2 separate regions of the Homo sapiens genome follow, and region 1 is linked to region 2. Evidence: fine-mapped expression QTL. Tissue or cell type: whole blood. Region 2 holds a variant in brackets; the other region holds the start of a gene. All regions are shown on one strand. Distances are between the middles of the regions.

The links. PIP is the estimated chance that this variant, and not a neighbour inherited with it, causes the effect.
Region 1: it holds the start of IRF2, and the variant in region 2 is fine-mapped to the expression of IRF2 in whole blood (TOPMed, PIP above 0.99).

Annotation. Positions count from the first base shown.
Region 1 is chr4:184,473,218-184,475,902 of GRCh38, reverse strand. IRF2 (interferon regulatory factor 2) reads left to right here and starts at 1,353. Exons shown (of 9, transcript NM_002199.4): 1 at 1,353-1,524. IRF2-DT (IRF2 divergent transcript) reads right to left here and starts at 1,101. Exons shown (of 1, transcript NR_186573.1): 1 at 1-1,101. RefSeq lists enhancers at 315-644, 995-1,184 and silencers at 1,215-1,334, 2,145-2,194, 2,275-2,685.
Region 2 is chr4:184,388,079-184,390,763 of GRCh38, reverse strand. It overlaps IRF2 (interferon regulatory factor 2), which reads left to right. Exons shown (of 9, transcript NM_002199.4): 8 at 15-61; 9 at 1,698-2,685. The coding sequence ends at 2,006. Among named protein-coding and RNA genes, the nearest start is that of LINC02362, 7.1 kb to the right of the region's middle. RefSeq lists enhancers at 160-893, 894-1,627. The variant G/A (reference allele first, on the strand shown) is at 1,110.

The DNA.
Region 1 (2,685 bases), 85 kb before region 2:
GAGACCAGAGCCACAAAACAGAATCCTGCACCTTAGCCATTTTCTTACCACACGCGTTTTCTTGGATACTTCCATTTTTCCAGTCTATATAATTCAATACTTCTGTGACAGAGAGGTGTTGGAGTTTTTTGTTTTGCTTTTGTTTTTTCGCAACTCTTTACATACAAACAGCTATGGTCTCCCAGGAAGGAACTTCCTCTGTTGAGTACAGAAGTCTGGGAAAAGACTGGTGAAATTGCATGCGAGGAAGAAACAGGTCTAACTAAATGTGAATCTATACTTTTAAAGCAAGGGACCACAAAGGGTAGGTCCCAAGGAAGTTGCATTGCTTGCTGCACTTGTCACACGGGCTGTACTTTCTTCTCTCATTTATTTCCATTTACAGCGTTGAAAACTGAGGCCTTAGGCTTTGGTTGAAAACCGAGGCCAAGGGTGACCAGCCAGTGAGTTAAGGAGGCCCCAGCCGAACTTTGCTGGAAGTGCTCCAGCATAAAGCCTCTCTCCAGAACCAGCCGCCACTGAGACGTCTTGAAGTCAAAGTAACTCACACCCTTGTCCACCTCGCCCTGCGGTGAAGAAACTTCGGTCGCACAGGCTCCAGAACTCATCTTGGCGTGGGCTGTGACTTACTGGGGGATGGGCCTCCTTTTCGTTCTAGCTCCTAAATGGAGCGGAGCGCCAGGTGGTGTCAGAGGGGGCGGCGGCCCCTCCAATGGTGGCACCCTCAGCCACGGATAAGGTTCCAATTAGGTAAGGACGCAAGTAATGCTGTCGTTTCGGCTGACTGCTCCTTTCATTCCTTGGAGGTGGTCGGTGTCACAAAACGAATTTTCATTTACTCTCAACAGTCACACCAGCCCTGCTAACTGGATGGTCGCAGCCCCGTGCCTTCGCCGGACGCCCTCCTGGAACCTTCAGGCCACCCTGAGGATGGAGACTCGGGTGCCCGCTCTCCTCCCCTACCGCCGCGGGCCTGCGCCCCCCGCCCCGGACCCCGACTCGGACGTTCTAGCCGCACGTGCGGGCGCCCCTGGGTGCGAGCCGCGGACTCACGAGCCGCTGCTTGTTGCTCCCGCCGCCGCGACCTGGGGAAGCGAAAATGAAATTGACTTTTCCGAGAAATGATGAAAGCGGCGCTGCCCGCCAATGAGCTGCTGCGGCGAACTTCCGCACCTCCCGGCCGGGCCGCTCGCGCCCTCCCTCCGCCTCCACCTCCCGGTTGCACAAGCTTGAAACAAACACTGGGGAGGAAGGGCGGAGGGAGGAGGGCGGAGAGGGGAGGCGAGGGAGGGAGCGCGGCCGGAGGAGGGCGGGGGGTGGGGGGATTTCCAGCCGCGGCTCTTCGCAGTTTCCTCTCCTTGTTTTGCTTTCGATCTGGACTGTTCTCAGGCAAGCCGGGGAGTAACTTTTAGTTTTGCTCCTGCGATTATTCAACTGACGGGCTTTCATTTCCATTTCACATACCCTAGCAACACTTATACCTTGCGGAATTGTATTGGTAGCGTGAAAAAAGCACACTGAGAGGTAACATTTTTCAAATAATAGTTGTGACTGTGTGTGTTTCTCTCGAGGGCATGTTTCTGGGGACTGTGGGGGGCCGTGTGTGTATGCGTGTCCTGATGCCTTGACACGATGTTTTGCAGACGGAAAATGCCGGGGTTCATAAATATTAATACTGATTTTTGGAGGAACAGTCGGCGCAATTATGGATCATCTGATTTTAGGGGAAGCAGGTTCTGCTGCTGTTGCTGCTGCTACTGGGGCTGCTGAGGCTGCGAGGAGGAGGAGGAGGAGGAGGTAGAGAGGGAGGAGGAGGAGGAGGTTGGTGGAGGTTTAATTTCACTTTTGGATTTGCAGATGCGGAGAGGTGGCTCCATGGACACAGACCTGCTGTGTGTGCTTCTGCGCCCCAGGTGTTGTGTGTGGGGGTGCAGGTCAGCTGGAGTCGGGCCTCATTTAAAACAAAATTGTGTGTATGTGCGTGTTTGTGTGTGCGCGCGTGTGTGTGTGTGCAGCCACCGCCGCCACCGGATCCGAAGGAGGGGAGCGGGTCCTTCTCGGTGCCCGCGGCGGCGCCTCTCCAGGCTGCCTCCAGCGTAAATAAGCAGGCACCGCTCCCCGGCCGGGAGGAGCGCCTCCAGCCACGGCCAGAGGAAACTTGCTGGGGCGCCCCGCGGCGGTCCAGGGGCTCGCCTGCCTGCCGGGCTCGGGGTCGGGTCGCGGGCGTCGGGTGCCAGCGGCCGGGGCGGGAGGGCGGGCTCGGAGCCGGGCCGGGCGCCGGGCCTGGCCGACGCGCCCTGCTTCCTGGGGGCTGGGCCGCCGCCGCCGCCGCTCAGAAGGGACGCCGCGTCCTCCTTCCCGCCGGCCAGCGCCCGGTCGGGCCCTGGGGCTTTGTCATTGCACTTGTCCCAGCGCGCCAGGGGCTCGGGCGGCGCGTCCCAGGAAGGCACCGTGCCGAGGGGTCAGCCGCCCGGGCCGCGGCCTAGCGCCGTGCGCCCCCGGGTCCCCGCAGGCGCCCCCGGCCGGCCTCGCGCGCTGGGCCTGACCCGCCTCGGCTACGGAGCGGGCGAGGTGGGGGCGGGGAGCCTCCGGGGACCGAGCGGCGCAGTGGGGGCCGGCGTCCCCTCGGGGTCCCGGGGCGCGGGCCGCGGCGGGGTGGGGACGCGAGTGCCCGCCCCGTGCCCT
Region 2 (2,685 bases):
CTCTCTGTGAACAGAAAGCGAAACGACTGATAGTGTGCCCAGCGATGAAGAGAGTGCCGAGGTAAGCCACTGCCCAGCCTGCCCACGATGCTGCCAAGGAAAAGCCTCCCGACCAGCTCCGGGCTTTCCTTGCTGCTGGTTATGCACCTTTCCTTTAGATCACAAGCTTCACTTTGGGATTTTCTTGTGTGGTGAAATATGCATCACCAGAATTTACCATACTTTTGGGTTTGGGGTTATAAAATTCGGCGTTGGAACTGAAAGGAGGAAAGGGAGTTAAATGTTACCATCAGGTAGAGAAGCTGTGATAGCAGGAAAAGGGAATTGAAGTGGAGGCTGGGAAATGCCGATGCTCTTACCACTTAAACATCCTACTTCACCGGCAAAAATAGAGCAGCCTTCCCAGCCAAAAGCAGTGACCAGTACACGTCACAAAATGCTAAGCAAAAGCCTCTTCCACGTGTGCGTGGGTTCCCTCCCGCTGTGACCCGTGCCCAGAGCTGGTTGTGTGCCCCATCTCGATTCCGAGTGGGTCCCGTCCCCTCTCCCTCCCATAGATGGGGCGTGCACAATGGCAGAAAGTGGCTGGAATGGAGATGGAAAGCATTCCTGCTGGCCACCTGCTGGGGGTCTGCGCTTGAGTGAATGAGAGAGAGAGAGGGAGGGAGCAAGAGAGAGGGAAGCTCATGGTTGTTTGAATTAGTGGTTTCCCATGTACTAAACACTTTGAGAAAAAGTGCAGGGATTCTGAAAAGACAGATGTACACGCTCCCATACACCCTGGCCTGATTTCTTCAAGGTTGCAGCTCTAGCCACTTCTCTGAATGAAGCCAGCCCTGAGGCCGCTGCTTGCTGTACACCGTGGAGCTCTAAGCCGCCCCCATTTGAAAGCAATCAAGGGGCATTCATTGCCTGTCACTAAGTTCCTCGCTGCCTTTTCTCTGAAAATGCAGGTTGGCTCAGGTTGACTGGGCCAGCATTGAGGGACCGAGTCGCTGTGCCACACTGGCCATGGTGACCTGAAACCTATCGAATAATCGGGCCGAGCCGCAGAGCACAAGGGAACCAGAAACCAAGCTGCTGCCTTCTTTTCCTGCCTTCACAGAGTA[G/A]TCTGGAAAGTATTTCTGGGAGGTAGCAAATGGGAATTGATTTTTTAAAAAAAAAGAAAAGGGAAGAAAAACCATTACTTGGCATATGAATAGCTGGGTGCAATAGATTTCAGTTGAGGGATGTAGAGGTGCTAAGCCTTTGTTCATTCTGCAGTTCTTAAGAAACTCAGCTAAAGCACCAACACATGGGAACGACACATTTTTCATTTTAAAATTTTTTTTGTGGGTTGTTGTTTTGAGACAAGGTCTCATTCTGTTGCCCTGGCTGGAGTGCAGTGGCGCAATCATAGCTGACTGAGGCCTTGACTTACTGCGCTCCAGTGATCCTCCCGCCTCAGCCTCCCGAGTTGCTGGGGCTAAAGGTGTGCACCACCATGCCTAGCTAATTCTTACGTTTTGTAGAGATGAGGACTCGCTACATTGCCCAGGCTGGTCTCAAACTCCTGAGGTTAAGTGATCCTCCAGCCTCAGCCTCCCAAAGTGCTGGGATTACAGGCATGAGCCACCACACCTGGCCAGTGATGCATTTTTAAAAAGCCATCCAATAGAAGGAGAAGGAAATACATATCTTAATTACTTTCTTGAAAGGGGCGGCCACACTGGCGGAAGAGGAATATTGAAGGCAAACAGTACCTCAGCAACATGGGGACTCGAGGCTCCTACCTGCTGCCCGGCATGGCGTCCTTCGTCACTTCCAACAAACCGGACCTCCAGGTCACCATCAAAGAGGAGAGCAATCCGGTGCCTTACAACAGCTCCTGGCCCCCTTTTCAAGACCTCCCCCTTTCTTCCTCCATGACCCCAGCATCCAGCAGCAGTCGGCCAGACCGGGAGACCCGGGCCAGCGTCATCAAGAAAACATCGGATATCACCCAGGCCCGCGTCAAGAGCTGTTAAGCCTCTGACTCTCCGCGGTGGTTGTTGGGGCTTCTTGGCTTTGTTTTGTTGTTTGTTTGTATTTTATTTTTTTCTCTCTGACACCTATTTTAGACAAATCTAAGGGAAAAAGCCTTGACAATAGAACATTGATTGCTGTGTCCAACTCCAGTACTGGAGCTTCTCTTTAACTCAGGACTCCAGCCCATTGGTAGACGTGTGTTTCTAGAGCCTGCTGGATCTCCCAGGGCTACTCACTCAAGTTCAAGGACCAACAAGGGCAGTGGAGGTGCTGCATTGCCTGCGGTCAAGGCCAGCAAGGTGGAGTGGATGCCTCAGAACGGACGAGATAATGTGAACTAGCTGGAATTTTTTATTCTTGTGAATATGTACATAGGCAGCACTAGCGACATTGCAGTCTGCTTCTGCACCTTATCTTAAAGCACTTACAGATAGGCCTTCTTGTGATCTTGCTCTATCTCACAGCACACTCAGCACCCCCTTCTCTGCCCATTCCCCAGCCTCTCTTCCTATCCCATCCCATCCCATCCCATCCCATCCCATCCCATCCCGCTCTTTTCCTACTTTTCCTTCCCTCAAAGCTTCCATTCCACATCCGGAGGAGAAGAAGGAAATGAATTTCTCTACAGATGTCCCATTTTCAGACTGCTTTAAAAAAAATCCTTCTAATCTGCTATGC